Linked DNA regions of Homo sapiens: regions 1 and 3 are each linked to region 2. The links come from fine-mapping of genetic effects on gene expression. A gene starts in region 2. Each other region holds a variant in brackets. All regions are shown on one strand. Distances are from middle to middle. Region 1 has its middle 14 kb from the start of LINC01665. Region 2 holds the start of XKR3 (XK related 3). Region 3 has its middle 26 kb from the start of LINC01665.

Evidence for each region. PIP is the estimated chance that this variant, and not a neighbour inherited with it, causes the effect.
Region 1: its variant is the best candidate, but not a certain one, in a credible set for the expression of XKR3 in neutrophils (Naranbhai 2015, PIP 0.63).
Region 3: its variant is the best candidate, but not a certain one, in a credible set for the expression of XKR3 in blood mononuclear cells (TOPMed, PIP 0.55).

What each region holds. Positions count from the first base shown.
Region 1 is chr22:16,759,174-16,766,536 of GRCh38, forward strand. No RefSeq gene overlaps it. Among named protein-coding and RNA genes, the nearest start is that of LINC01665, 14 kb to the left of the region's middle. The variant C/CTAAA (reference allele first, on the strand shown) is at 2,901.
Region 2 is chr22:16,822,772-16,830,134 of GRCh38, forward strand. XKR3 (XK related 3) reads right to left here and starts at 2,640. Exons shown (of 4, transcript NM_001386955.1): 1 at 2,520-2,640. It also overlaps the pseudogene HSFY1P1.
Region 3 is chr22:16,770,793-16,778,155 of GRCh38, forward strand. No RefSeq gene overlaps it. Among named protein-coding and RNA genes, the nearest start is that of LINC01665, 26 kb to the left of the region's middle. The variant A/T (reference allele first, on the strand shown) is at 3,614.

The DNA of each region.
Region 1 (7,363 bases), 64 kb before region 2:
TGAGTAGCTAGGAATACAGGCGCTCACCACCATTTTTGTATTTTCACAGGGTTTCCCCATGTTGGCCAGGCTGATCTCAAACTTCTGGCCTCTGGTGATCCACTCGCCTCGGCCTCCCAATGTGCTGGGATTACAGGCGTGAGCCACCATGCCCGGCAACATAACTTTTATATGCACCAGAAAGCAAAAAATTTCTTGTGACTTGCTCTATTGTGATATTCGCCTTATTGTGGTGACCTAGAACCAAACCTGCAATATCTCCAAGGTGTGCCTGTACCCCTGAAAGCAGAGCTGGAGTAAAGACTTGGGTGTGGATGGTTTATTTGGGAAGTGATTCCAAGAAGCAAGAGTGAGATGTGGGAAGAGTGAGCCAGGCAAGAAAAAAAAAGCCAAAATAATGAAATGCCATTGAGGCTGCTCCCATGGACTTTTTTTATGCGGGACCTACCGAGAGGCTCTGGAAAGTTATCCAGGACTGTCCACCTGAAACGTGAGCCTCGAGCATTTGCCCACCTGTCCCACACGGGTTGAGGTCTTCCCCTGAGGCTGTTAACCTGCAAGTGTTTCTGGGCTGTATTTGTGCTTAGGCAAAATCCTACAATAGTGGAGATGTCCCGGGGCGGAAAGTGTAGCTTGAGTTTGCTGGCAGCACAAGGGAAGCCTGTGCTTCCATGGAACTCCCCACGGTGGCTGAGACTGAATGAAAGGTGCGCTGAGAAGACCTGACGCAGTCGTCATTGCACGGAGGAATCGCAGCCATCGATCTTGGCAAGAGGACCCCCGCCCTGAATCCTGCGCTTGAGAGGGTGCCTCTCTGGCCCTCCACTGACTGTAACCCGGCCCACCCAGAGCTCTCACCCTCTGTTCTAGGGCACACGCTGGGCACTCAGGCCCCTGGCCAAATGTACCTGAGCCTGCATGGCCTCTTCCCTGGGTCCATTTCAAAGTGAAAACTGTGCTTGTTGAAATGGTGCCCAAGGCTCTGCTGTCTGAAGGGGTGAGAATTGTGGATGGAGCTTGTATGGGGCCTAGGGAGTCCCCCACACAGGGGTACGCAAGGCTTCTCAAGTAAGGACAGGGCTAGCTACGATGAAAGAAAAAAGTTTAGCCTGGGGCTGAAGATCAGCTCTCCCTTTGCTACCACATTCTCTGGCAGAGCACCAAGGAATCAGAGAATTCTACACTCGACTTCGACCTTGTGGGTTATTACGGTGGTATATTTATTGAAGTAGAAGAATAGAACATATTTAGCTATTTTTTAACTTCATTTATAATTCGTAATTATTTAGACATAATGCAAATATGGGCTGGAATTCATGTTCTGATTTTTGTGGCCTTGAGCTAAGGAAAAGGGACCCAGGGAAATGTGGCTTTATACGCTTAGATGACTTCATGGAATCCCCAACTTCATTAGCTTCTATGATGACTCAACATTGTTACTAAAATTCACTTTGTATTATCTTTAAAAACCAAGGGATATTATGTAGCTCAGCGGTTAGAAGGCACTTGACTCAGAATATCTATGAACCAAAGGATATAAATGACTAAGAGCAGGAGGATCATTACCTGAAGGGGTGGAGGGTTGATCTCAGGATATGACCTGTGAGATCCTTCCTGCTGGCTCAGTGCTGACTGAACGTGGGGCAGGAGAGTCCCAGGAGCAACACATATCTGGGATAGGAGGGAATGTGGGGAGGAAGGAAAGAGAAATAGGCCCTTTTTGTTTTTATTGATACAATTATAATTATTTCTAGGGTACATGTGATATTTTGATACATGCATACAATGTGTAGTGATCAAATCAGGATAATTTGCATATCCATCACCTCAACCATTTATCATTTATTTGTGTTGAGAACATTCCACATCTTTCCTCTAGTCATTTTGAAATATATGTTATTGTTAATGATCGTCACCCTACTGTGCTATTGAACACTAGAAATTCTTCTGTTCATTCCATCTAACTGTATTTTTGTGCCCATTAACCAACTTCTGGGATGGGTAAAAGAGTGAGTGGATGAAAAGGGCCCTTTTTAAGGAAAAGTAAATTTTACGAGAAGGGAAGACATTTTAGGAGGAAAAATAAAATGGTGGACCATGGGCTTAGTGTGGGGACTGCAGAAATCGAATGGCAAAGAGAAAAAACCAACTTAGCGATGTGAAAATACATCTCAATGTCATTCCTTTCACAGGTCCAATGTCTGATATTCTTTTGGGAAGCTGGATAGGAGGTAGGAATCTTCCTTTGAGTCATATATTTTTATGATTATGATTGTTATTGAACGATAGCTGACAATTATTGAGAGCAATTATTGAGGACAATTATTGAGCTTTGACAAGCTCTTTTCAAAGGCCTTTACATATATTTTCTCCATTTCTAACTGTTAGATATTCTTATTATTCCCATTTTGTAGATGAGGGATGCACAGGCATAAATCCTATGTGGAGGCAGAGAGCAGCTAAGTAACCTGACCATGGCCCAACAGCAAACAAATGATGGGGCCACATGCAAATCCAGGCAGAACCCTTCTATTATATGAAGCTCAATGTTTTCTTGTTTCCATCTTGTTATGAAAACACCTATTTGCAAAGGGGTTTTGAAGCTACTTTAAAGCATTTTGTGGCTGTGTGTGGTGGCTGACACCTGTAATCCCAGCATTTTGGGAGACCAAGGTGGGTAGATTGCCTGAGCTCATGAGTTTGAGACCAGCCTGGCCAACATGGTGAAACCCTGTGTCTACTAAAAATACAAAAAAATTAGCATGTTGGTGTGCACCTGTAATCCCAGCTACTCTGGAGACTGAGGCAGGAGAATCGCTTGAACCCAGGAGACAAAGGTTGCAGTAAGCTGAGATCGCACCACTGCACTCCAGCCTTGGCAACAGAGTGAGACACTGTCT[C/CTAAA]TAAATAAATAAATAAATAAATAAGATTGAATTTTGAGCTCCTGACCATGTCCCTAGATTGTACTCATACATATTTTGATGTCTAATAAGATTTATTCTTAGTGCATTTTTTAAGTTAAAGTATTTACTGAGCATCTATTGTATATCATGAGCTGAGATAGGCATCAGCGGTGCAGGGAACATATGGCACAGTCTCTGCCCTCAAGTAAATTTCACTCACCACACATATTTATTAGGACTGATACATGTGTGAATATAAGATAGTATGATAGGCATTGCAACAAATAATTATTTACTGTAAACCTATTTTATAAGATTTTAAACTTAAAGTACTTTCATGCTATTTCCAAAAAAAGTATTGCATAACTTTAAATGGATTCTCAGTTTGAAATCATCATACAAACTGCAGTAGCATCTGCTGGTGAAATACTGCTTTGTATCTATTAGAATAGTCCAAACAACTGGGAGAGAACTGCATTATTAGAGCTGTAAAAGTTATCGTCTAGAAATCTCAGTAAAGAAGAGGAAGTTCTATGGTAGATGAATAAGATGACACCTAAACTGTTGTCTTAAGCTACTGAAGTTCTGTGGATATCTCACAGCACAAAGTTCAAGTGTATGCCCACAACTCCTCATGCCACAAGATGTGACACCTTTCCAAACTCTTTTTGCAAAAGTTTCCAGTTATGTCTCTTATTAGAGTACTTTTTATACCCACGTATTCCAGATTTTGTAGTGCACGCAAAGAAAAGTTGGGAAGGGGCTTCCATTTGTTGATGCCAGCTACTCGTTCTATGGACCAGGCCCTTGCCCATGCATCAGGGTTGGTTCTTTTGTCCCCACATCAGCCATAGCCCATAGGCATTAACCTCCATTGTACAGACGAGGAAATTGAAACTCTAAGAGAATATGCAATCAACCCAGAGTCAGGCAGCTTGTGTATGTAAGGGTTGGAATGAAAATCCGTGTGAGTCCCAAGTCCCCTTCTACCATATGGTTTCCATTTCATTTTGCAATCACCTTGGCTGGGATATGTCTGCCCTAAAAGATAGTAAGTAGGAATACTTGTCTCTATACCTTAACCTAACATCCATGGGCTTGCTTTTTGTATTTGGAGGTGCCATAATATTATAATGATAATTTGATTTTATTTGAACAGTGAATATTATACTACTCAGTCTAGACATTTATGACATCCCAGTCTAAACTGGATGATAGCAATGAAGCTTCTTCAAGGAGACAAGTATGAGTAATAAGGTAGAAATAAGTTGAATTTCTATGGAGTTGCTACTTCTGAATTTAAAACTAGTTGAGGTTAAGTAGACATTCAAAAAGATCGCTATAATCTTCACTTGAATAATATAAACATTTCTTATTTTTTATATATTTATTTATGGAACATAGATGTAATTTTAAAACAGAATTTTTGCAAACTGTATTAAAATATATTAAAAACTTAATACATTATGACCCAATAGAGTTTTTCAAAGTAACTCAGTGTTAGTTTAAAATGTGAAATTCAATCAGTATAATTCACCATAGAATACAGTGTGTATGTCAGTATAATATATATCAAAATTGGAAAGAAGTAACTTTATCCTTGTTTTTTAATAAGATGAAATTACAATCTTAAGGAATTTCAACTTTCATTTTAGATTCTGGAGGGTACCTGTGCAGGTTTATTACATGGGTATATTGCGTGATGCTGAGATTTGGGGTATGAATGAAGGTGTGAGTGCCTGTCTTGAACTTGCACCCAGAGCAACCTCCGCTCATCAGCAGAGGGTAAACTAACTTGAATTACACTTGAATTTTTTAGGAGAGCAGGTCACAAAGGGCAAATTGTGGTCCAGAGACAAAAGTGCTCGAAGGTCTAAAACGAGCCTGCCATATCACTGAGGGTACAGGTCTTCACACAAATATATTTCAGAAAGGGGTCAAACCCTTGTTTAAAGATAAATGTAAGCTGGGTGTGGAGGCACACGTCTATAATTCCAGCTACTCAGGAGGCTGAGGCAGGTGGATCCCTTGAGTTCAGGAGTTTTAGACCAGTCTGGACAACATAGGAAGATCCCATTTCAATTTTTAAAAATCAGAAAAAAAATAGATAAACTTAAGCATATTAAAATTTAAAAGAGTTTATTTGAGCAAACAGAGATTCATGGATCAGGCAGCTCCAAACTGAAAGTGGCTGGAGGATCTACTGGAGGTGTTTGTAGGGAAGGCTTTCATAGGGTGAATACAGAAGTAGAGTAGAGAAATTATTTGATTGGCAAAAAATTGGGCAGTTGCATTATTTGAACTATCCTGGTGGTAGGTCTCTCATTACACAGCTAACACTCAGCAGGCCACTTTTTGATGGGCTAAGCTTTTTACAGGTTGTTGACGGGTTCCTTTTGTCTATGTAGGAACCCAGGCCATGGGAGCTATCTCAGCCTAATGCTCTCCCATTAAGTTATTTTACACCTTCTCTCTGTATCAGGGTAAGCAGGGGTCTTCCCCACGAGGGTTCTTACCACCCTGTTTCCCTCAGCAAAATGAAACTGTCCCTTTTGCCTCTGTAGGCAATCTTCTGAACAAGGCTTTCCTAATATTCTTATGTCATCTTATTTTAACTTATCCTCTTCTCTGTACCTTGTTTACATGCTTCTGGAACACTTGTGTGTCTTGTACCCATCCCCTGCATTATTTAGTCAATCCTAAAAGAAGACCTCTAGGATGGATTGGTAGAGAACTGCTGGCATATTGAGCCCTCTCTCTTTGTATCTGGAACTTTCATAATTACCTTAGTTCTCCATGCCAATTTTGCAATTATCTTTGTTCTCCACTTCAAAATACATTTATCTCTAACAGAAGCTAAGTACATAAAAGGGACCTTGTCCAGTGGTACTTATGAGGCAGGAGATGTGATATATTTAAAATTATAAACTAAAAGCTTTCTGACACCAAAAGCATAAGTAACAAAACAAAAAATAAGTAAATTGGACATCATCAAAATTTAAAACTTTTGTGCAATCAGAGGACAACCGGCAGAATGGAAGAAAATATTTTAAATAATATCTTTGATAAGGGATCAATATCCAGAATATATAAAGAACTCCTACAACTCAGCAATAAAGAAACAACCCAATTAAAAAATAGGCAAAGGACTTACATAGAAATTTTCCCAAAAAAGATATACAACTTGCCATCAAGCCCATGAAAGACGCTCAACATCACTGATTACTAAGGAAAAGCAAATCAAAACCATAATAAGATACCACTTCATACCCATTAAGATGGCAATCATCAAAAAACCAGGGAATAATAAGTGTTGGTGAGGATGTAGCCAAATTGAAACTCTTGTGAATTGCCAGTGGATTCTACAGTGGTATAGTCATGGTGGAAAAGAGTACAGCGGTTCCTAAATTAAAAAAAAAAAAATGGAACATAGGCTGGGCTCAGTGGCTCATGCTTGTAATCCCAGCACTTTAGGACACCAAGGTGGCCAGATCACGAGGTCAGGAGTTCAAGACCAGCCTGACCAACATGGTGAAACCCCATCTCAACTAAAAATACAAAAATTAGCTGGGCATGGTGCTGTGTGCCTATAATCCCAGATACTCAGGAGGCTGAGGCAGCAGAACCCCTTGAACCTGGGAGGTGGGGGTCGCAGTGAGCCAAGATCACACCACTGCACTCCAGCCTGGGTGACAGAGCCAGACTCCATCTCAAATAAATAAATAAATAAATAAATAAATAAATAAAAATGAAACATAGAATTACCATATGAGTCAGCAAGTCCACTTCTGGGTTTAAACCCACAAGACTTGAAAGCAGGGACTTCAACAGATATTTGCAAATTCATGTGCATAGTAACATTATTCATGATAGCCAAAAGGTGGAAGCATTCATTGACAGAGGAATGGATAAACAAAATGTGGTACAGATATACAGTGGAATATTACTTAGCCTTAAAAAGGGACATTCTGATGCATGTTACAACATGGATGGACTTTGACATAATGCTAAGTGAAAGAAGCTGGATACAAAAAACTAATACTGCCTGATTCCACTTATATGAGATATCTAGCATGTAATATTCATAGAAACCAAAAGTAGAATGATGCTTCCCAGTTACTGGGAGAAGAGATTAAGGAAGGGCTATTGCTTAAAGAATGCAGAGTTTCAGTCTGGGAAATCAAAAAAGAAAAACTTCTAGAGATGATGGATGGTGGTGATGGTTGTACAATCAGGTGACTGTATTTAGTGACACTGAACTATGCACTTAAAAATGGTTAAAATGGGGGGGAGGTGGTGGTGGAGCCAAGATGGCCGAATAGGAACAGCTCCGGTCTACAGCTCCCAGCGTGGGCGATGCAGAAGATGGATGATTTCTGCATTTCCATCTGAGGTACCGGGTTCATCTCACTAGGGAGTGCCAGACACTGGGTGCAGGACAGTGGGTGCAGCGCACAATGTGT
Region 2 (7,363 bases):
TACTGTCACTTCTATTTTTTTCTTTTAACTATAAAATAAATGTCCACATTGCTAACAAGCATATTAACTAGCTTATTATGCTTGCTTCCTTTGCTTTTGGTTGTGGTGGGTATTTATTTGTTTATTTTTTAAGACATGATCTGCCCTTGTCACCCAGGTTGGAGTGCAGTGGCGTGACCTAGACTCACTGAAGCCTCAACCTCCAGGACTCAAATGATCCTCCTGCCTTAGCCTCCCAAGTAGCTGGGACCACAGGTGCATGCCACCATGTACACTAATTTTTGTGTTTTTTGAGGAGATGGGGTTTGACCATCTTCCTGGTCTCAAACTCATGAGCTAAAGTGATCCACCTGCCTCAGCCTTCCAGTGTTGGGATTACAAGCATGAGCTACCACACTGCCAGAATCCTGTCATTTCCTTGAATTGCAAAATTAAAACCTCATAAGCTACAGTTTCCACATCTGTACAATGATAACATCATTAGAATCTTCCTGGGGAGATAGCAGTGTAGAGAAAATAATACATCGGCAGCAGGAAGAAGAGTTCGTGGTACACAGTGAAGTTTGGAAAGGTGTTCCTATTGACATCATTATAATCATGACCACCATCATCATTTCTTAGAAACACAGAATTGACAGGACTCACTGATTAAGAGTATTTGACAGTGAAATATGAGAGAAGAGATTGCCTTGGTCAATTCTTGAGTATCCATCTGGTAGAGCTTGGAAAAGTGGTGGAAGCAGAATTTTTGGGAAAAACATTTAAAATAAACTTAAACACCTTACTTTTGATCTGCGTGATGTACAGAACTGGTGATGAACAGGGCAACCTTGTCACTTTAAAATATATCTGATTGCCAATTTGCAGCATCACAAGACTAGTAAACATTTACTGTGAAACATTCAGAAAATACAAATTACCAAAAGAATAGAGTTTACCTATTGCTTAGTTTTCTCCAGCAATGGAGAGATCAATAATAATAAATCTGACACCAATTCAAAATATGAAACTTTAGGGTACTCAAGTACTAAAAGGTTTTTTTTTTTTAATGTAAACAAACTCACAGGTAACAGTGTCCAAAGTAGAACATTAGAAATGAGAGATTCTTGATGTAACAACAGGTCCAGGTGATGATAATTCAAGGCTGCTGAAACAAGTGAATGAAATCTTGAAGGGATCTTAATGATGAGAACTAATTCTTGCTTGTTGGAGTGATGAGACAAATGGTCCAAAAATTAAAAAACAAAACAAAACAACAACAACAACAAAATAATTTGTTGCTTGCAAATAGGCCCTAGAAGCAATATGAAACAGTCTTCAAATGAATAGATGAGAAAAATCGCATCTGACCTAATTAATTCAATGTCACAAAAAGAGAGACAATGTGTTATTTAAAGGGATGAGACAGAAAAAACACTCTTGTAAATAAAGAGAGAAGAGTACAATGAAGTACCCATTTCCACCTACGAGGAACGGGCATGTAAGAAAATACGGGAATCATGTGCAGATGATATAATTACTTATCTAGAGGCACCATAAAAATGTTTTTCCCCAAATAATGTCCATTAGGGATAAAATTTTAAGAAAGAAAGGATGTTACTTTTAAAGACAATTGTTAAATACCTAGTAAATAGAGTAAGTGAGTAAGAAAAGCAGAAAGAAAATAAGTTGCAGCTACCAGATACCCACAAAAAGAAAGAAAAGGGAAAAAGAAGGAATGGAGGGAGAGAGCACAAATGGAAAGAAAAAGGGTGGGAAGGAGGAGGGAGAGTAGAGAGAGAAATTACAGAAGTAGGCGAGGGGTATAAAGGAAAGCATGGAAAGACAACTGCAGAGACATCAGAGTTTCTGGGCCTCAGGATAGGGGAAAAATACATCCAACATTATAAGAAATATATCCCACTCTCTCCCCAGCAATCCATACATCGAATATGATATTAATGCAGATTGCACCTTTCTGGCTGCCCCAACCACTTCCTTCTCCTTTGGACTCACAGAAGGACCTCTATAATTTATTTCTGGAAAACACTTATGAAAATATGCACATATGAAAAGGGCCACAGAGTTTAGAAATGGGTCTTCCAGAGTCTAAAATTCAAGGTAGAAAGTGAAAGTGAAGTCACTGAACAATGGAATTTAGGCATGTGTTTGTGATTAAGTGAACTTGTTTCTTGTACTCACATAGCCAGTGCATCACTGCATCTGAATAACAAAAAATATGGTAGATTTCTGCCCCTTTGAGATTTCACTTAAATACGAAGCACTTTCTCCTTCTGATGTTTAAAAACATGCTGAAATTTGTAATATATTAGTAACAACCACTGTCCCACCCAAATGCTAAGCAGCTGCTTCTCTTCTCTGAAAATCAGAATCAAGAGAGGGAGTTTCTAGGCTCAAGACTCGGGAAAAGCCACCCCTGATATCCAGAGATTTATGTTAAGATCCCCAGCTGAGACAGGCAGAGGTCAAGGTAGGCTGAAGAAGCTGATCTGAGATGGTCGAGGGCTGCTCCTACTTACCTTGCCTATTTGCCACCCTCACAGTTTTGAAACTCGTTCAAAAAGTAAATGCTTTTGTTCACCTCTTTAACAGCACCATTTCTGGTCTCGTTTTCAACACTACGTCCTTTGCTTTGCAGGTAAAATTGCTTATTTTCTTGCCTTTTTATGACTAAAGTAGGCTTGCAGTTTGGAGTCAGGTGACTGCACTAGCTGAGTCATCTTCCCTTGAAAACACCAAGGCATTCTTCCTCCCTACAGAGTCACACATCTTAGTTCCCCAAAACGCTCAGCCACAATTTGACTTCGATTGTCCTACATTTAAGGTGATATTTTTCTGATTCTCCCATTAACTCCCTCTTCTCTTCGCACCCATGGCCCATCTTTTGCTGCTGTCTAGTAGCCATTCATCCCCTCCCATCACAAAAGAAGTCTGTACTTCCTTCAGACAGAGCAACAAGAAAATTCCCCAGAAAGCAAACAATTAAACAAATTTTAATTTTGCCTTTTTTAAATGAAAATTCTGTCAAAATTGATGAACCACATCTGGTAGGAGCACCTGTTTTATTTTCACAAAGAGTTTTCTGATCTGGACATTTTTGTTACTTACTGCTAATATGGAAAATTTTGAACTAAACAAAATACACCCCCAAAACTTAAACTATGTTAAACCAAGACAAGCTTCTAACAATGACACCTCTTTCCAGTATGAGAGAACTGCCTCCTACAGTATAAGAAATATCAAAATCATTATTTTTTTATTCCACACATATTCAACACTTAAAGCCAAGGCATTAGAATTTTAATATACCACCTCTCAAGCATGAACATATAAAAATTCTTACTGTAAATGGGGCATGATTATTTTTCAAAGAGAAGAAATATTTTATTCAATTCTAAGATTAATTCACAAATTTGACTCCTGTTTTATAATGATAACTTTACGTTGCAGGACACAGAGATTATTCCTTAAGAAATATTTTTTAAATAGATATTTGGCTCTTGGAACCAAATAATAAAATTTTCTGCTTAGACATACATACAAATTTACTTTACTTAAAACACTTTCTTGTTATTATTACATTTTTAAATCTCCCACTCTTTGGGATCTCCTTATAAGTAGGTCACTTGCTTTTAAAATCTTACATAATTAACATGTCAGATATTTACAGACATACCAAATGAAAGTATTATTTATTCTATGATATGAATAAAAAATGTTTTGAATAGATACATACATGAATAACTTTTTATTCTGAAATCTAATCAGTTTTATTCATATTTGATTTTATTTTAATTTTTTAAGGTATGTTTCACATAATACAAAATTACATTATTCAAAATTATATTATTAAAACATTTCTATCATCAAACAGGAAACCCCATTATCTACTTAACAGTTCTTTCTATTCCCCAGCCCCTGACAACCATTAACCTACCTTTTGTCTATATGGCCATGTCTTTTTACCATATATGTTTTACACTGCATCAGTTTTCAATCCAACATGCCAAGCTGAGAGAGTTTTTAAAATATTTATTTTTATTTTTTTGCACCGTCCAATTACCAGGCCCTATGCTCCTCGCACCAATCTAGTAAGACTGTGTGTGTCAAGGAGAAAATTATGTTTATTTCAGGGATTGAGGATATTAATTAATTTATTTATTTATTTATTTATTTATTTATTTATTATTTTCTTAAGACAGAGTCTTGCTCTGTTGCCCAGGCTGGAGTGCAGTGGCACAATCTCAGCTCACTGCAGCTTCCGCCTCCTGGGTTCAAACGATTCTTCTGCCTCAGCCTCCCGAGACCTGGGACTACAGGCACATGGACCACACCTGGCTAATTTTTGTATTTTTAGTAGAGACAGGGTGTCACCATGGTGGTCAGGCTGGTCTCGAACTCATGACCTCATGATCCGCCTGTCCCGGCCTCCCAAAGCGCTGGGATTGCAGGCATGAGCCACCATGCCTGGCCCTCCTTATTAATTTAAAAGATTCTGCAGGCATGAAACTTTTGCAGAATAAACTGTGTAAGTAATCATTCTATATTTTATTTTTACCAGATACATTTCTGAGACTGGAAAGTAAACAGTCTTGGCCAAATTTTTATGTTTGTTGCTAGGTGACCAAAGTCCTCTTGTGATGCCATTGCTACTCAGGTTGGAAACCACTGTGGTGATCTCAATTACTTTACCTGAGTAGACTACTGAAGCAGCATTTGAAGCTGCAGTCTTGAAACACATGCAGGCTGGAAAAGTCGCTAAAGAATTACTTATTTGAGATGGCACATGTTTCTGCAGAAACTCAAGATGTTTCTCCTAAAGATGAATCAACTGGTTCAAAAGCCTCCTCTGGGTCTCCATTGTGTGAACACATAATCCCTGGGGATTCAGACTTAAGGTCAATGACTGAATCAATGATTTTCAGGTTTTGCCACAAGGATCCTTGATAAAAAGGCCACATTATACTTTATGTCTCTGAGCCAGATAAAGATAATGATTTTCCTTCTCTGACCTTTCCCAGTAAACTTTGGAAAATAGCTGAAAGTGACCAATTCAAGTCTAATTCATAGGATAAGAATGAAACTTGCATAGTGACTAATGAAGAACTCTTCAAGAAAGAAAATTTGGAAATAAAGGCTCCTTACAGAATATTTCAAACTGACAGTATGAAAATCTTAATTTGACAGCTCAACCTTTATGGATTTAGTAAAATTCAACAGAATTTTCACAGATCTGCTTTTCTAGCCAACTTTCTGGCAGAAGAAAAAGAAATTTCTGTTTTAAGCAAGGTATTCAAAATATTTCAGTTACCACTTTGAGTATATATGTAATTTCATTTTATATATCAGTAACTATGTTAATACATGCAGTAAGATCAGATTTTAAAAATTATATCAAATATTAAGGTAAAAATTACTTAATTTTTTTGAAATTATTGAGTGCAGGTTGAGCATTAAACTTTCAGGTTTTAAGAAATGTTGCTAACAACATTCAGTCTTACCAGTGAACTCCAAATAAAGATACCAAAGCCACTTAGTGAAATGTTACTATTAAATGTATAACATGTTTTCACCAGAGGGCTTCAAAACTTGAGTGTTTTTTTTTCTCAACAAGCATGTTCTTAAAAATAGTAAACAATGTTCATTCATTATTTGATGATATTAACTTTGTGTGATAAAACAGAAATCTGAGATTGTATGGGTTATGTTTGTTATTGTTACTTGCCTCTTGGTTTAAAATGGCACTGAATTACCTTCTCCTTGGTTTTAGTTAAAGTTGTATTATCATCCGAATTTCAAACGTGGCTGTCCCCAACTTTTAATAAGAACGAAAAGAAGAATTAAGATTAAAAACACTTCTCTTGTATCTACTTCACTGAATATTTCAAGAAACACTTTAGAGCAGGGGCTAACACAGATAAACATAATTCTGTCTTAGCTGCTGAAACTAGTGAAGAAAGTTCATTTTCAACATCTACAAATTTAAATATGACTCTAACAAGGAAATCTTCTGTCAGCCAGGGCATTGCTGGTTCACCTGACCCAATTAGAAGTGGTTTCCCTCCTCTTCCATTTCAACCTCAGTTGGACAATCAGAACAAATTACAACAAATCAACATGCTATTTTAAATCAATTGACAAATATTCATATGCACTCTCATAGCACCGACATGTAAGCAAATGGCCACGTTGTGAATTTTGTTACAACCACAGCTTCTCAATACTACATCATATCTCCCTCCTTTGGGGCTGATAGTGAAACCACCTACTTTTTCCCACCAGATATCCTGAGGTATTAGCCAATGAGGCTCCTCATTCTAACCTGCTACCAGCAGGCAACCTGTGGTTGTAAATGACTGCGACAGCTGATACATCAGTTGCCTTTCGTTACAGGCCAGCTCTTCAACCATCTTTACTGGAAAAATATCACCCTAGTTACAACTGATCTTCCACCAAAAGAGTACCAGATTATGCATGACAACAGAGACTGAAATTTATGTTGACAAGAACATTAAAAATTCCTGCAATAATCTTACTGAACAATAAAATTACATGTTGACCTTTATGGTTGCTTTTCCTTTATTTCTAAAAATACAGTTAGGAGTAAAATGGGGCTTTGTTTTAGTGGCAGGCTACTGTACCGCATTTAAAAAAAAATATGTGCTTTTTTATCATTTGATGGGAAATTTGACATGGCCCTTTGTAAGCTAGTTTATTTAATTATCTAAAGAGGAAGAAATAATAGAGTGTTTTAGTCCATTTGCTGCTGCGACAACACAATACCACTGACTGGGTAATTTGTAAGGTGACTTATTTTGCTCATTATTCTGAAGGCTGGAAAGTCCAAGGGGCTGCATCTGGTGAGATCTTCTTTCTATGTTGCAACATGGCAGGAGGCCATCCTACGGTAAAGGACATGTGATAAACAGAAAATCAGGGCCAAACTCATCCTTGGTTCCAAAGCCCACTCACACAATAACTAGCCTGTTCGCCAGATAATGCTATCAATCCCGCCATGAGGGTGCACACTCACGATTTTATGGTTTCTAAGTCCACAGTCAACGTTGGCTAATTCACATACATATGTTTATATATCAAAACCATGGCAGCAGGCAAGGGAAAAAGAAGGAATTGGAGTTAGAAAAGAGTAATAACTGACTTCTCAAGTAGTCTGGCATAAATCAAATGAGGGCCTAAATTACAATGGCACAAAAAGAATAGATATGCACACACACACGCACACACAGAAAATCTAGAGAAACATTAACACACACTATATACTTCAGTATTTTCTCACTTTTTCTCAGTTATTTTAAACTTGGATTTTAGTTGGCAAAGATTTTCTTCATTACAATTCATACCT
Region 3 (7,363 bases), 52 kb before region 2:
CAGAAATAATACCACACATCTACAACTATGTGATCTTTGACAAACCTGACAAAAACAAGCAATGGGGAAAGGATTCCCTATTTAATAAATGGTGCTGGGAAAACTGGCTAGCCATATGTAGAAAGTTGAAACTGGATCCCTTCCTTACACCTTATATACAAAAATTAATTCAAGATGGATTAAAGACTTACATGTTAGACCTAAAACTATAAAAACCCTAGAAGAAAATCTAGGCAATACCATTCAGGACACAGGCATGGGCAAGGACTTCATGTCTAAAACACCAAAAGCAATGGCAACAAAAGGCAAACTTGACAAATGGGATCTAATTAAACTAAAGAGCTTCTGCACAGCAAAAGAAACTACCATCAGAGTGAACAGGCAACCTACAAAATGGGAGAAAATTTTTGCAACCTACTCATCTGACAAAGGGCTAATATCCAGAATCTACAAAGAACTCAAACAAATTTACAAGAAAAAAACAAACAATCCCATCAAAAAGTGGGCAAAGGACATGAACAGACAGACACTTCTCAAAAGAAGACATTTATGTAGCCAAAAAACACATGAAAAAATGCTCATCATCACTGGCCATCAGAGAAATGCAAATCAAAACCACAATGAGATACCATCTCACACCAGTTAGAATGGCAATCATTAAAAAGTCAGGAAACAACAGGTGCTGGAGAGGATGTGGAGAAATAGGAACATTTTTACACTGTTGGTGGGACTGTAAACTAGTTCAACCATTGTGGAAGTCAGTGTGGCGATTCCTCAGGGATCTAGAACTAGAAATACCATTTGACCCAGCCATCCCATTAGTGGGTATATACACAAAGGACTATAAATCACACTGCTATAAAGACACATGCACATGTATGTTTATTGCGGCAGTATTCACAATAGCAAAGACTTGGAAACAACCCAGATGTCCAACAACGATAGTCTGGGTTAAGAAAATGTGGCCCATATACACCATGGAATACTATGCAGCCATAAAAAATGATGAGTTCATGTCCTTTGTAGGGACATGGATGAAACTGGAAATCATCATTCTCAGCAAACTGTCGCAAGGACAAAAAACCAAACACCACATGTTCTCACTCATAGGTGGGAATTGAACAATGAGAACACAGGGACACAGGAAGGGGAACATCACACACCGGGGACTGTTGTGGGGTGGGGGGAGGGGGGAGGGATAACATTAGGAGGTATACCTAATGCTAAATGACGAGTTAATGGGTGCAGCATACCAACATGGCACATGGATACATATGTAACAAACCTGCACATTGTGCACATGTACCCTAAAACTTAAAGTATAATAATAATAAAAAAAATAAAAATAAAATGTTGATACCTAGTTATCCAGCTTCAGCTTACAAGGTTTGGGGAAAATTGGGCAGTTTTAGTTTTCAGTGATGCTAAACCATGAAAAGGGGGACACAATGTTGAAATTTTAGTTTACAGAGTTGTAGCTATATATTGAATAAAACAAGAACTGAAAAATGTAGACTAATAAAATTTGTAAAACATCTCACGTGGGTGTCCTCTAATTTTCCATTGAAACAAAATTCTCTCTGTGGTACTTCTCTTTACTCTTGTTCAGAAAATCAGTCTGGCCTTACTAGTTTTGGCATTATTTACCTGAGTGCAATAAGAATGGTCACTGACCACAAACACCTTTCTTTATTTCTTCATTTATTCATTATACACTTTTTAAATGAAAGACAGTGTCTGGCTCACTGCATTCTCAACCTCCTGGGCTCAAGTGGTCCTCCCACCTCAGCCTCCTGAGTAACTGAGACCATAGGAGCACACCATCATGGCTGGTTAATTTTGTGTTTTGTTTTGTTTGTTTGTTTGTATCTGGATATGGGGTTGCACCATGTTGTCTAGGCTAGTCGTGAATTCCTGGGCTCAAGTGCCTCTCCCACCTCAGCCTGTGAGAGTGCTGCGATTACAGGTGTGACCCACCTTCCTGGCCACAGAGGCCTTTCCAGTTTCATTTTTGAAAATTTCTGTAACTAGTCTCAGATTATATTTTTTGAAGCCTTGGGACTAGAAGCCAAGCCAGGAACTTGCCACCGACTTCCCTATCAGAACCTGTAGATTTGGTTGAATTCCACTCCTCTCAAAGTCTTCAAATATGGTGAGGTTCCAGAGCTTGCCCAGAAGTGACCTTTCTTATCTTGTAGGCTAGGAACTCTGTAACCAATTACCAGGTTGGTTTTTCCATGAAGGCTTTATAAGTATTGCCCCCACGGTCAACTTTAGTTCTTAATGCTACCTGGTTATATCTGATTCTATGGAAATCATTCTTAAACATATTTGATATTTCAGACAAGACTTGGTTATAAAACCACTTTCCACTTATGTTCTATGCAAATGCATTTTTACTAAACTGCAGAAATTTCTCTATTGTCATAAAAATCTTTATAAAATCTTAAATGTCCAGTGAGTATATCACAGCTCAATTACTACATTAGGAAATCCAATAAGTATACAAATCAAGTGTATTCCCTTTTTTCGTGTTTTTTGTTTGTTTGTTTGTTTGTTTGTTTGTTTTTTCTGACAGAGTCACCCTCTGTCATCCAGGCTGGATTGCAGTGGTGTGAGCTCAGCTCACTGCAGCCTCTGCCACCTGGGATCAAAAAATTGTCCTGCCTCAACCACCTGTGTAGCTAGGATTACAGGTGTGCACCACATTTCCTGGCTGACTTTTGTATTTCTAGTAAGGATGGCATTTCAACATCTTGGCCATGCTGGTCTGGTCTCCTGACTTCAGATGATCCACCTGCCTTGGTTTCCCAAAGTGCAGGGATTACAGGCGTTAGCCACCATGCCTGGCCCGCAAATGTATTCTTGCAGTTAATAATAACAATAACTTGTAATCTGTGGCTGTGTGCAATAAACTATTTTAAACTAATCTCATTTACTAAACATTTTCATGAGTCATGTGAACTTGATTGTCTATTTCTAGGATTTTTAGGAGTATGTAATTCACAATAATGCTCATTTATCTCTTAGCCAATTTGGATAGCACCCTTTTAAGTGATATTAAAAATTAACTTGGTACTAACATCCAGAGGTAGAAATATATCACACACAGTTCATCTATATGCTAAAAATATAGATAAAGGCAAGCAGATTTTATAGCCCTGACAAAATTTACCCATGAATAAAGCAATAGAGTAATATAAAACTCACTGGCTTATATCCATTTTATATTTTATCTAAATTGTGCTTCTAGCAAATGAGACAAGATTACCGATTCTATAGGAGACCTAATACCTAGCTGGAATTACAGGTGTGCACCACTATGCCAAGCTAAATTTTTGTATTCTTAGCAGAGACAGGGTTTCAGCATGTTGTCCAGGCTGGTCTTGAACTCCCGACTGCAAGTGATCCACCCACCTCAACCTCCCAAAGTGCTGGGATTACAGGCGTGAGCCACCATACCTAGCCCTAATAACCTGTTTTAGAGCTCACTCTAAAAATCACATTTGATTTTTTTGTTGTTTGATCTGTTTTGCTGGTGAGAGTCTCTTGAATTTTTCACTTCAGCCAATGTGTTTCTTAGTTCCAGGATTTTTTAAATTATTTCATTTTT[A/T]AAAATTTCTCTCAGAAGTTTATTAGTTCCTTTTCTGTCATTTTAGAGATCTGAATTTCCTGAAAACCGCCATTTTGAATTCTTGATTAGAGAACTCACTGATAGCCATCACATTATTTAGCACTGGTCAATGGTTTAGTGCTTTGTCCATTTGGGAAGATTATGATTCCTTGTTCGGTATTATTTCTAGTGGTTATACATCTATATCTTTTTATTGAAGGACTAGTTATTCAGTTCATTCTTTTCTCTGTATTATTTTGTGTTTTACTGAATATATTTGCGTTGAGGTTTTTTTAGACACACCTATGGTGGGTTTTTGTTTGCTTGCTTTCAGCTACGTCAGTTCCTTTGTTTTGACAGTAGATGGTGCCTTAAGCCAAGGTTTGCCTCAGCTCTAGCAAGCTTAGGATTGCTGCCAGTCCCCTATCAGAGAGATCCTGAAGGGGCTATGCTAACAGTGAGGGAAGGCTGGCTATAAGTTTGTGCCTAGGGAAATTATGAAATATACCTCCTACCTCATGGTACTGCTGCACAGGCACTCTGGTTTGGCATCTCCTATGGCTAAGATATCAAGGCTGGAGGTGGTAGTCCTGCCTTTCTGCCTTGTCCCTGGTTGTCCTCAGGAATTCTTCTTCTTTCAGGCATTCACAAGGCTTCCTGTGGGTTAAGACAGGAACAGGTTTCCTGCCAGGAAATCAAAAGTGGCTTGTGTTGTCCACTTCAACTTTATTTAATCCAGTGTAGTAAGCATGAGACAGAGGATTTTTTTTTTTTTTTACACTTCGTTGCCAGCAGACTAGGGGAAGAGTGTCATGAATATAAAAGCCAAACTTTCTTATCATCTGCCTGGTTTCTTCACTTCTCTGTCACCCTAGGAGCTGCCTCATCCTCATATTTGAGCTCTGAGTTATTGCTGGTGATAACCTATGCAATGTATATCGGTTTTTGGTTTCCTGTATGTGTTCTTGGGGGGAGGGGGAGCTAGGGTTGGTGGGGAAACATGCCAGCTTCCTTTACTATGTCATTTTTTTGTAAAAGTACTCTTCTCTAGTTTGCACTTTTTCTACTTCCTTGTGTGTGAATTGATAATTTTACATTTCTTCTTTATGTGTCTATGTTTGCAACTATATATTTCTCAGTATTGATTTTGCTGCATCCCAGAAGTTTCAATATGCTTTAATTTTCCATTTATCTGCAAGGATTCTTTAATTTCTTGCAGATTCTTCAATTAGCCATAGGTTGTTGAAGAGTGTATTGTTTAGTTTCCAAATATTATACATTTTTCAGTTTTTAGAAAATGGGGCTCAGGCGGTCACAGTGGCTCGTGCGTGTAATCCCAGCACTTTGGGAGGCTGAGGGGGATGGATCACTTGAGGTCAGGAGTTCAAGACCAGACTGATCAATATGGTGAAACTCCATCTCTACTAAAATTATAAAAATTAGCCAGGTGTGGTGGTGGGCACCTGTAGTCTCAGCTACTTGGGAGGCTGAGGCAGTAGAATCACTTGAACATGGAAGGCAGAGGTTGCAGTGAGCTGACATTGTGCCACTGCAGTCCAGCCTGCGTGACAGAGCAAAACTCCGTCTCAAAAAAAAAGAGGGGGGGCAGTCTCTAGTTTTATTCCACTGTGGTTGGAAAAAGCATTATGTGTGATTTCAATAGTTTTAAATATGAGACTTGCTTTGTGGCCTACCGTGAAGACTATTCTGGACCTATAAACCCTTTAGAAGAATATTTAATCCACTTGTGGAGTGGAGTGTTTTGTATATGTCTAATAGCCTCATTTGGTTTATAATGCTGTTTAAGACATTTGTTTTCTTATTGAACCTCTGTTTGGTTGTTTCATCCACTGTTGAAAGTGGGATGTTGAAATCACCAACTATTATTGCAGAACTGTCCACCTCTTCAAATCTGTTTGTCTTTGTTTCATATATCCTGCGGATCTTTTATTAGGTAAATATGTAAGGATAATATCTTTTTGATGAATTAAACATTCTTGATATTTGCATAGTACCTCTAGCTCTATTTTGGTTACTGTTTGAATTAATTTTCCCGTCCCTTTTAAAACATGTAAAAAGTCATTCTGTCAATCTTTGACTTTTAACTGGAGTTTAATTTATCTGCATTTAAGGTAATTACTGATAAGAAAGATTTTGCTATTTTTGTCCTTGTTTTCTACAAATTTGTTGTTGTTGTGGTTGTTATTCAATTCCTCCAAAAACTGCTCATTTTTACATTTGATTGTTTTTCTAGGGTACCATTTTGACTGTCTCATTTCTCTTTAGTATATTTTAACAGTTATTTTCTTAGTGGTCATTAAGGGTATTATAACTAATATCTTAAATTTATAATAATATAGTGTGAATTATAACAACTGTTTACATTATATAAAAATATTTTCCCATACTGCTGTCCCTCCATTCCTACGTTTTGTCAAAAATTGCTTCTTATTCAATATGTGCTAACAGCACAGATATATAATTCTTGTCTTATTATATGTCATTTCTTTATTTTATTATTTTATTTTACTTTACTGAGACATGGTTTCAATCATGCAGGCTAAACATGGTTCACTACAGCCTTGAGCTCCTGGCCTCAAGGGATCCTCCCACTTCCACCTCCCTTGTAGCTGGGGCTAGAGGTTCATGCCACCATACCTGGCTAATTTTATTTTCTGTAGAGACAGGGTCACACTTTGTTGCCCCGGCTGGTCTCAAACTCCTGGGCTCAACCAAACCTCCCACCTTGGTTGGGATTACAGATGTGAAATACTGTGCCTTACCACTTTTTAAATCTAGTAGAAAAATAAAGTCACAGAAACCCCCAAATACAATGGTATTGGCTTTTCTATTTCCTGGTGTAATTACTTTATTGATGTTATTTATTTATTTATTTGCACATGGGTTACTGTGTATTGTTCTTACATTCCTTACTTCATCATATTTTGTAAGGCCAATCTAATAGTGATGTACTCTCTTTAATTGTTTGCTTGGAAATGCCTTACTCATAAATTGAGAAATTGAGTTCGGTTTTGCCAGATATTGAGTTTATGACTGATTTATGTTTTCTTTCAGCCCTCTAAATATGTCACCCCAGTGACTTCTTTCCTCCATAAATTTTAATGAGAAATTGGCTGTTAATGTCATTGAGGATAACTTGCATGTGATCAGTTACTTCTGTCTTGCTTCTTTTAAAGTTCTCTATTAATTTATCTTTTGTCAATTTCAGTGTATGTGTTCCAGTGTAGATATCTTTGAGGTTATTCTTCTAGGAGTATTTTTTTTCTTCTGGGATTCTTGAATAAGTAAATTTGTATCTATCAGCACATTTGGGAAGTTTCAGCCATTGCTTCTTCAAATTATTTTTTTTATCTCTGTGTCTCCTTTTCCTGTGGGGCTCCCATTATGAATATGTTGATATACTTGATGTTGTTCCATGGCTACCTTAGTTTTATTCATTTTTCTTGTTTTTCTCTTCTTGTACCTTCCTTAGACTGAATAGCAAACAATCCGTCTTCAAGTTCCTTGATTATCCTTCCTGCATGCTCATGCATACTCTTCAGTCTTTCTAGTTACAGGGTATGAATTTCATTTTTAAAAATAATTTGTAGGTCTTTATTGGTATTTTCCATTTTTGAAACACTGTTGTCCTGGCTTCTCTTAGGTATTTGAGAACATTGAAGTCAAGTAAATTAAAATATTTGCCTAGTAAATACCACGGCTGGGATTCCTGAAGTACAGTTTCTTTTC